2 separate regions of the Homo sapiens genome follow, and region 2 is linked to region 1. Evidence: fine-mapped expression QTL. A gene starts in region 1. The other region holds a variant in brackets. All regions are shown on one strand. Distances are from middle to middle.

The links. PIP is the estimated chance that this variant, and not a neighbour inherited with it, causes the effect.
Region 2: its variant is fine-mapped to the expression of PFKFB2 in left ventricle (GTEx, PIP above 0.99). The same link has a PIP of 0.9 or more in blood mononuclear cells.

Annotation. Positions count from the first base shown.
Region 1 is chr1:207,050,302-207,055,676 of GRCh38, forward strand. PFKFB2 (6-phosphofructo-2-kinase/fructose-2,6-biphosphatase 2) reads left to right here and starts at 2,974. Exons shown (of 15, transcript NM_006212.2): 1 at 2,974-3,065; 2 at 4,400-4,501. The coding sequence starts at 4,417. It overlaps YOD1 (YOD1 deubiquitinase), which reads right to left and starts at 907. Exons shown (of 2, transcript NM_018566.4): 1 at 387-907. The coding sequence starts at 729. RefSeq lists enhancers at 471-1,041, 2,265-2,904.
Region 2 is chr1:207,074,821-207,080,195 of GRCh38, forward strand. It overlaps PFKFB2 (6-phosphofructo-2-kinase/fructose-2,6-biphosphatase 2), which reads left to right. Exons shown (of 15, transcript NM_006212.2): 15 at 1-2,997. Among named protein-coding and RNA genes, the nearest start is that of C4BPB, 11 kb to the right of the region's middle. The variant G/A (reference allele first, on the strand shown) is at 2,135.

The sequences.
Region 1 (5,375 bases):
AAAAAAAAAATCCTGCACCCTTGAGATCTCATCGGTGATATAGGGAAAAAGAGACATAAGGACAGAGAAAATAGGCCCTACTTTATATTTTTGTGGACGCCGAGGGAAAACAAAATGGGATAGTTTCAAAGCCGACCAGAAAGCGGAATGGGGAAGGGGGTCTTCAAGGCTTTGGGTTCCCTTTCAACCCTGTGTCAAGACAAGGAGTTGCTAGACACTTGCCCTGGCCCCCGTCAGCATTCTCTGTTCTTTGATCTATCCTCGCCCCTGGCCTCAAAGCCCCCCCGCCGACTCACAGCCACCTTGCCTTGACTGGTGTTTTGTTCTCTCTCACGCCCCTCTCCATCCTCCCGGGACTTTCCCTGGCCCCAGCCCTGATTCCTTACCAGATTGGATGGGCAAGTCTTCCAGAATGGTATCCCCATTGCTGAGATCCAGGCACTCGGGAGGGTATCCGACGAGGATTCGCTGACCGCCGGGGGCGATCCCGGTGATGGCGGCAATTTGGCCCTGGAGTTCCCGCACCCGGGTCCGGCTGGACAGCCCCTGCAAAACATGGGTGCCGTCCTTGGCCTTGCAGCGGAGCCGCCACATCGTGTCGGTCCGGCTGCCCACAGGCCAGGCACCCGCGGGGCCAGCTTTGGTCCCGGCAGCCTGTTGGGAGACGCCGCCGGGGAAACCAGGCGCCGGGTGGACTCCAAAATGGCGACCTTTAGCGGGGCCAAACATCGCGAGAAGTTGCGGGTGGTTGCAGTTATCGCGACGCTTCGGTGCGGCTTCTGCCTTAGTACCTTAGCAAGCGCGAACTCTTTTAAAGTGACAACTGATTTTTCCCCCACCCTCAGAACGAAGATGTAAACCTCCGTATTCCTAAAGGACAACGGGTCTTGCTACCTATAGAGCGAGTGAGGTGCCCTCCGCGTGGGTAGCATATATGCTCAAGAAAAGAGGGCGGGGGAAGGAGTTCCTGAATGAAGGTCTGGAGATTGGAATGTGACCTTGCACTTAGTGAGGTCGGAAATTATTAAATTGGGGCTTCCACACTACACCCAGACTACACCAGGAGAAACAGAATCATAGTTCACAACGCAAACGAATGCCAGGAATGGTCAGTGAGTCAAAGGACCAGTCAAAAACAATCACACTTGTGACTAGACTCGTGGCTGCATTAAACATTGACTCATTGGGGTTCCAGGGGCCAAAAGACTGGCCTTTCTGCCTCCCTGGGACTGTGCTTGAAAACGTCTATTTGCCACTTCAGAAAGCACAGTATGAGGTCAGCATCTGGGCCCAGGGCAGCTGCCTCATTCAGGTGGTGGCAGTGTAAGGAGGAGTCGTGTAACGCGTGTCATCAGATTCCAGTTCAGTTCCTGGGCATACAAATATGAAGACTTCATTCCTGCCTTCATTGTAACAAGTATTCATTGCAGTTGGGAGACAGGGTGGGGTGTGAGACACACAGCCACTGAATTTCAAAGCAACGTGATAATGCTAGATTATCTGTACCTTTTCAAACGTGTATGCCTAGAACCCAGGACTGTGCCTCGCAAATAAAAAGTGTTCAACAAATACTGGCTGAATGAATAAAGACAGAGTTGTATAGACATAGAGAGGGCAACTAGAGCACTCTGGGAGTTGTAAAAAGCCTTAAAGAGGAGATAACTGTTTGAACTTTTGGAAGAATTAGTTTAATTCCCAGGCGAAGGAGGAATAAAGACATCCCTGAATTTATATCTCTCTTTTCCAAGAAATCCATACTCATTGTTCTTTATCCAGCCGGGATTCAGACAGCAAGTCCCACTTGCCAAGAGTGGGTTTATCAAGCATCAAACGGGCCCGCTGGGGCAACTATGAAAAGTGTAGTTCACTTGGTGCAAACTCACCTCCACTGTAAAAGACTTTGCTTCTGAATAAATTATATGTAATGTTTCCATCTTTTCACATCTTTCATGACTCAATTTTTTTTTGCTGGTGCAATTTTCCTCCTTGGTTCTTCAAGACGACTGCAACGGATGATACAGCCTGGGTTAGGGGGTAGGTAGGAGGGAAGGTAGGAGTGGTTAGAAGTCCACCGGGGTGGCCGGGCGCAGTGGCTCACACCTGTAATCCCAGCACTTTGGGAGGCCGAGGCGGGTGAATCACCCGAGGTCAGAAGTTCGAGACCAGCCTCATCAATATGGAGAAACCCCGTCTCTACTAAAAATACAAAATTAGCTGGGCGTGGTGGTCCATGCCTTTAATTCTAGATACTGGGAGGCAGGAGAATCGCTTGAACACGGGAGGCAAAAGTTGCGGTGCCAAGGTCGTGCCATTGCACTCCAGCCTGGGCAACAAGAGCAAAACTCCATCTCAAAAAACAAAAACCAAACCAAACCAAAACAAAAAAAACTCCAATGGGGTGTATGGGTGGGTCCAGGGAAGCTTCTGGTTCAACGATGAGAGTGGTTGATTTTCTTAGGTCACAGCGTCTGACCTGTGGAGCCGGGTATGTATACACCCTAAGGCATAATTAGCTCAAGTGTTGTGGTAGTTTATTCTAGCAAAAACATCTTTAAAGCTTACGTTCCCATTTATGGATCTAATGAGGTTCTGCTGGGATTCAGGAATGAGAGCGTTAATCTTTGCAGCATTTTCTCGTCACCCGGCACACCCGCTCTCAAGACGCCTACCGAATAGTCTACTCTCGCGAGAGTCAGAAAAAAGTCAAGCTTTTTATTAACACCGCCCCCAGCCCTATTAGTTACCAAGCAACAGTGCCACCAGGCTCCTCGGCGCTGGGAAACTCAGGAGCTTGTGATCTCTCTGGTTCCGACTTCCAGCCGCCTTCCCGAGCCAGTTAGGCGATTGCGACCCTGCCCCGCCCCCTGGGTCCTGCAGGCGCCCGATTGGTGGATGATTCTCTCCAGGTGAGGACCTACGCGCGAGGGGGCGGGGCCAGACGGGCTCACATGATTTGCCGGCGACTGTAGCGCCGGTCCCGGCCACAAGCTGTCGGCTCGGTTCGGTCGCGTTACAGGGCAGGCGCCGGGGCCAAGGCAGGGAGGGATCTTAGGAGAGATCGTAGGGTGAGCCACAGCTGCGCAGCCCCGGGTAGGGTCTAGCGGGGCGGGATGTGGGGGCTGCGTGCCCCCGGATGAAGTGCGGGGAGAGGTGCTGGTCCCCAGGCATGGCAGGCAGCGCGGACGTTCTGGGACCGGGAGCCACAGTCTGTGTTTGGGTTGGAGGATTTGTGTGGTCAGTAAAGGAATCGTGTAAGGCTCTTGAAGGCGCAGGATCTTCCGTCCTCACCAGCCCCCTGTTGTCTGAATTGGGGGCATGAGCTCAGGACTTTCCCACTCCAGTTTGAATCAGGGCTTACCCCTCTTCCTGAGGTGACCTTGGGGAAGTCATTTACCACCTCAGCGCTCCGGCGTTCTTTAGACTGAGTCCCGGGGGTAACTAGGGAGAGGGTGCGGAGCAGGGCTTGAGAATGCACTAGAGGAGAAATGACGACGTGCTAGGGCTGTCTTGGGGTCCAGTTACTGTTTTTCCTTCAGGGAATATGTTCGAGATTTTCCCACGTCCCTCACTTTTTTCTTTTCTTTCTTTCTTTTTCATTTTTCATTTTTTTTTTTTTTTTTTTTGACAGAGTCTCGCTCTGTCGCTAGGCTGGAGTGCAGTGGCGGGATCTTGGCTCACTGCAACCTCCGCCTCCCGGGTTCAAGCGATTCTCCTGCCTCAGCCTCCCGAGTAGCTGGGACTACAGGCGCGCACCACCAGGCCCGGCTAATTTTTGTATTTTTAGTAGAGACGAGGTTTCACCATGTTGGCCAGGATGGTCTCTATCTCTTGACCTCTTGATCCGCCCGCCTCAGCCTCCCCAAGTGTTGGAATTCCAGGAGTGAGCCACCGTGCCCGGCCTCACTGTTTGCAAAACTGAGTCCTACCGTTAGATTGGAGTTAATTTCCTGGTAATGTACTTCGTCTATACATAACCCACCCCACCCCAACTGCTGCCACTACTCTGCCCAGATTCTTAAAACTAGAATCTGAGGTCATGAAACCTTGAGCAGGACACTTAATTCGATGAATCTCAAATTTTCAATCTGTAAAATGAGAAGAAATAATGGTGGCAAAATCTGCCTAATTACAAGATTATTGTTAGGACTGAAGAAGATAACGTCTGTAAATGTAGACTCGTAAGTCAGAAGATAAATGTAAGGTTCTAGTGCAACTCTTTTTATAGGTGAGGAAACAGAGGGCTAGAGAAGTAGCTGCTAACTGGGAGAAACAGGACTGAACCTGCCTCTTGGCCCAGGGTGTTTTTACTTATACCACACGGATCCAATGCACTGACTTTTTTTAAGTTATGTCTTCTTTCTTCCCCTTCCCTTTTTTACATTCTACTTCTCTGTTTCAGACATCTGAAGAGCTGCCATGTCTGGGGCATCTTCCTCAGAACAGAACAACAACAGCTATGAAACCAAAACCCCAAATCTTCGAATGTCAGAGAAGAAATGTTGTGAGTTCTGGCAGAGAGGAGGGACTGCTCTCTCTCAGCATTTTATCTTGGGAATATAGTTATAATCCTGGACTCTGCTGCTTGGTGGGAGTGATAAATAATTATTTGACATGGAAATTTAATGCAAAGTCTCCAGGGTAGAATGTCCTGTCTAAAACAAGTAGACTTAGTGAAATGTCTGTTCTTGGGGCTTGACTACTGGTGTAGTCCAGCAGTTTCTTACTGCTTTCTTAAACTGAATCTCTGTCTCCTGGGATGTTTGCACACTGGCTTGCTGATGGAAGTTAGAACTAACATTATTGTACACACAATGAGTAAGGCACAGTTGCAGGTGCAGGAATTACTTGGAGCTGGTAATGTTACCAGCTTTATCTGTTGGGCTAAGTTTTGGGAGAGTGCTGCTCATTGTAGAAATTGCAGATGGGAGCCAGTGCTGCTTGGTTTCCTTCCTACAGGCCTGAGGGGAATGAGCCCTGACACTTGGCTTCTCACAGTGTCTTGGGCATCTTACTTTCTCACAGGTTTAGCCTTTGTACTTTGTAAACTATTTTCCCTATAGGTTCATTTTTTTGAGGACAGCTTTCACATGAGCATTTTCATTTCTATGCCTGTCTTTTAGATAGAAACAGCAGGAGGGTTTGCGAGGAGATGAAGCATCATTTCCTGTCCCCAAGCATCTGTATTTCTAAGCATCATAGGCTGCATAGCTTCCCAAAAGATCTGGGACTCTGTTCCCCACATATTTTGGGGAACTTCAAGGAATGCTAACTCTTGCCTCTGCTTCTGGATGGCACCATTCCTGCAGAATCCTGTCAGTCAGTTCTTCTCACTTCAGTGGTTATATATATATATATATATATAGCCAGTTAGTCAA
Region 2 (5,375 bases), 25 kb after region 1:
CTAGAAGTGTTCAACCATCACATCGCTTCTCCTGACTTTTCTGTTGTCCTATGGCTATGAGACTACAGGGGTTGGGGGATGGGGATGCCCCCACCACCACCAGTGTGAGAATGAGATATGGTTGGGGAGGCGTGTTTGGCACTTTTACAAGGTTGCATTGTCCACATTTGCTTGGATGGTGGCATCTGTAGCCCAAATGGGCATTCAGTCTTTTCTTCTGCTGTGAGGTAAGAGTAATTCAGACCTAATGAATGAGAAGAGGGAGCACTTTGATCCACAGACTTTGGATTAACACTGTACCCACTCTTAGCAAAAGGGGACTTCTCTAACAAGCTAGCATTGTGTTAACCTGTCATTAACCCAGCATTAGAGACAGGTCACTGGGATGTTCATTCTGGCTCTCAGCCTGCTGTTATTTCCCCACTCTCACCTGTGCTAGTTCGCTTTCTCCAGAAGAGGAGCTGAGGTGGTCTTATCCTCAGATAGGACATGAGAAATTGGAATTTGGCAAGCAAGGGCTTCAGCATCCTTTAGTTTCTAAAGCAAGATCCCTTCAGAGAAGTCTAGCAGGAAGAAGCCAGGAGAATGTAGAATGGAAAAGAGCTCTTACTCCAAATTTTAGAGAAGTTTCAGCTCTACTTCTCATCTTTTCTCTCCTGGTCTTACTTGAATGCATGTTGGTAATCTGTATACATTACTATGACTGTGTCTATCACAAGTCCTACAAAATAAAAATGGACTTAAAAGTACTCTCTGCTGAGGCTGTAAGTTTTGTTTTGTGAGAAATAGGTAAAGACATTAGCATTTAATCTACTGGAATAAGCTGGTTGCTGTGGCTTATACCTGTAGTCCCAGATACTTGGGAGGCTGAGGCAGGAGAATCACTTGAGACCAGCCTGGGCAATATAGTGAGACCTCACCTCTAAAAAAGTTTTTTATAAATTTACTTGTCTAAAGTGGGGAAAGGGAAATTATTCTGTTTTCTTATTCTTGCTTCAAGACTATGACAGATTTGAAAGAGAATTCTAAAGCAGATTTAGAGAACCTGCTTCTCTTCTTATCTCCTAATCCCTAAATTGTAATTTAGCTCTTATCTGTATTGTTGTTTTGTTTTGGTAAAGGGATGATTTTTACATTGAGTTTTAAAGTAGAATAAGAAAAGCTTCTAAAAACTTGCATTGTGCTAGGGATCTGCCCTATATCTTTGCCTCTGGTGTTTCGTTGTTGTTGTTATTGTTTGTTTGTTTCCAAAGAAGTTGGAGTTAAGGACACAATATATTTGTACCCCTAGACTGAATGGGTGAGTATTCCATATGAGGATCTGGGTAATCCTCTTTGCAACCCACATTTGGTCTTCAGAGACACTGGCATTTTGAAGAAACATATGATATAGCTGTTTGGAAATAAATTCATCTATGTTACTTTTTTTTTCTTTTTTTTTTTTTTTTATGAGCAGGAGATCTTAATTGACAGAAACTCATTGGTGGTTGGAGTGGCCAATGGGCACGGGAAAAAGTATCCAGTAATCAGAAGAATTGTATCTGGGTTATGTAATCTTATGCACATTCCATTGTCTTTGCCAAGCCCAGAAGCCATGTTGTGTTCATTGTTAAGAAATTTGATAGATTTACCCAGCTTTTCTATGTATTTTGACTTATTGAAAATATGTAACAACTGAGTCGGGTTGCAGCACTGGTGGGGTAGAATCGACTTTCCCTGAAGGTGACACAGATGTCAGAATTGTGTCCAGGGATTTAATTTAGACCCATACTGTCCAGGAGACTGTCTCTAGTTGGATCTCTGTGCTGACTGACTGACAGACAGACTTTAGTGTCTGTGTGCTGACTGACAGACTCTAGTAGTGTCTATATGTTGACCAACTGGTAGACCAGGAGGATCTGTGTGCTGATTGACTCTAGTAGGATCTGTTTGTCACTGACAGACTGTAGTAGTGTCTGTGTGCTGACTGATAGATAGACTATAGTAAAATTTGGGTGTTGCCTGACTAACGGTCTAGGGTCTGTAAGCTGACAGTCTGCCTGCTTTCTGATTGTATCCATTGAAGTGTATGTACATTATGGTAATTCTCTGTCTATTAAATGTGTCTAACAAAGGAAGGAATTAAGCACTCCAC[G/A]TGTTTTCTTTATAGGGGAGTTCTGTACACTATGATTTTAAATAGATATTTCTTATATAGTAGTGGCCAAATTCTCATTATTTTGTACAAGATAAAGGTTATGCATCACTTTTATGGTATTTTGTGAACTCAGCTAAGGGAATGCCTGTTCAGAGCCTGGAGTTGTTACCTTTACTTGAAGTCATCTCATCCAGTCCCCTGCTTTAGGGCAGGACTTCAGTTCCACTGTTCATTTCTGAAGCTTCTGTGTCCCCAGCTTACCCTGTTCTGAAATGTTGTATTCCATTGGACAGGGCTGCTATTTTTAGTCAGCCATGCATTTGGATTTTACACTTAATCTAGTAAGTAAAAATGAGAAGAAAATTTGGCATTTAAAAATTGATTTTAAGGGTTGGCAAAAGTATTTTTTCCAGTAAGCCTTTCACTGGATATCTGTGACCAATGTTTACCTACGCAATGTTTTTGTATCTGAATTGCTTATGTACGTTTTTTATTATATTGACCTAACAAGAAGATCAACTTATGCTGGTATGGTGATGGTTTTGCTATGGCAAAATCAAAGGGCTGATCATACATGGTGCCCTTTGGGAAGGGGGATGGTGTGGGGCTGAGCACCTCTGGGTTGAATGGGAATGGGTCAGATTGGGAAGCCTAGGAAGAGAGTTCTACTGTAGATTTCCTAGGCACTGCTCTGTTGAAATAGGAACATAAGTCTTTAGCAACATTCTGATTTAATCGGGTGACACTGATAACAAAGTATGCCACTCAGATCCATTTAAAGTGTGCATAACTGTATTTGAAATGTGTTTTTGTGTGCGTGTGTGTAGAATGGGTAAATAAAATTGTTGAGTAACTTGAACCTATCAGAAGGCTTCTGGGTTTTTTGTTTAGTATTTTCAGTTGTGTTTCCCATCCCTTCCCCACCCCTAAAACTTTGCCTCATGCTGCACAAGGATTCAGACTCAGACAAGCCAACAGAAGTTCGCACTGTAATTGAAGACCATGGTGTAGCCGTGGCTCTCTTCTGCCACCTTCTGGGGAAGATAGGAAGAACATTATGGAAAGCACATGAACTTCAATAGTTGTGTGTTCCTGTTGGCACTTATGCAAGAATTAAGAAACAATTACATTTCACTGCACTGTGCAGTAATTCCCATTAGCAACATGTAACTCATATTATGTATTATAAAGAAAACTTTTGGAGATTTTTTAGCACTTGGTGGACTGTTGTTCCTAAAATGTGATTTGCCCATTTCTAAAGAGATTATGGTCAAGGGTATAAAACAGCATTTAATTTTTTTTGAGACAGGAAATACAGATGGGATTGTTTTACCATTCGCATGCCTTATTCCTTGTTACCTTAACAAAGACCAGAAGCTCATTAGAAATGCAGAATCCCAGGCCCCATCCCAGACCTCCGGAGTCAGAATCCTCATTTTACTAGGACGACCAGGTGATTCATATGCACATTTAACATTTGAGAAGCACTGTTCTAGGGGAAAAATTTCCCACAAGGTAAAATGTTAGATGCCAGTTAATGGGAAGAAGTTGATCTGCTCTGATGACTGGTTTCAGAATGGACTCGTATAACTAAAATAGTAGGGACCCTCCTCAGAAGCCAAGTAGCCCCTGACTACAGTGTCACTTTATTGGCATGGTCTTTTGGCTGACATAGCCTACACGATTTCCTTCTACCAGAGGGATCCTGACTGCTCCTGCTTCATATCTTGGGTATGTAGCTTATGGTCCAGGTCTGAAAGGAGTGCCTGGTCCAATATGGTCACGAGGTCAGCTCCTCAGGGAAAGAAGACCATGACTACGCCATTCGGGTAGTCAAGGTGTGTGTGTAGGCACACCAGTGTGTTCATGCATGTGTATGGATGTGGGGATGGGGAGGTTGAGGGAGGAGGGAAGGTAGGGGAAGGATTCTGTTCTACTTTTATGTTCGCTGCTTGGCAGTGCTGTAATAGCTTTGTGTCTCTTCCTCTCTGGCTCGTAGGCAGCAGAGACCACACTGGCTGTGCGCAGACGCCCCTCCGCAGCGTCCCTCATGTTGCCTTGCTAATGATGTGGATGTTCAGGCCTCACCTCTCCAAACGACTGGGATCTACTGAAAAGCTTGGGATGTCAGCTTCACAGAGGCTAGAACAGGAAGTTAAGTGGGAACTGGACTTTGGGGGCCACCAAAACGAGGCCTGGAGAAACGTCACCATATTTCCTCCCCTCCTGCCTAATGGGAATATCAGTTACACTGAAAAATTTAACTTCCCTGTGCCTCAAAACATTTAGCAACCTGAACCAGTGACTTTTTGTCATCTCTGTGCTGAGTTTGGTCCAAGTTGGTCAATCTCATTCTGTATAGGCATTTAACATCCTACCTGTGACTGTCTGCATCCTTTGCTGGCTCTTTTTTGCCCAAAGTGCAAATGCACTTCTTCAGATTTACTTTTCAAGTGAGAAGGTAAGAGCTGGTCTCTGCCACTGTTCCAGGCGAGCAGGCTAGAGTCTAATATACTTATGCTAGCAGTTACCATTTGCCACATTGGAAGCAAGAGACAAATCACCAGGTGAATGGAGGGTCTTCTGAGAAATTCAGTCCCTAAAACATCTTCTCTGCCTTGATAGAAGAACAGTGTCAGTGGCAACCTTTTCATTTAGAGAAGTTTTTCTTGTTCCAGGCCCTTCAGGACAGGATCTGACTGCAAGACTCCCCAAAATGGGTACCCATCTTCTAAGTTCCCTTTTGTAGCTACTGTACTTTTGACTTGATGCATGTGCCTCTCATGCATCAAGATGGGGCTGATGTGGTTCTCCTGGGTGGTTGGGAATGTGGACTAGACAGAAAAGTAGAGTGCCATTTATATCACGTGAGTAAGTCAAGAAAGCTCCTTGAGAATCAGCCCGATCAGGGAGTGTTTTGGCTTCAGAACAGGTGGAAGGAGACACGCCCCTCTGTGGGCTCTGTCACCATGATACAGTCCTTGAGAGAGCTGTGGCTGTGACTTGGAGGGCAGTAGTCTCCTGATACCTGCCTCTTGGCCACTGGTCACTATTGTGGTCACTGATCTCTCATATAAAAGTGAGGGTGGCGGGGTCATGGACCAGCGCCTCAGTGCATTAGTCATTCGCTTTTCCTTACAGACAAATCAGATAACTCTTCCCCAGTGATTGTCAAATGTATGAATGTATCTCTGTAAATGTGGTTTTGACATGTCACTGTTACTGAAGGAGAGTATGGAAT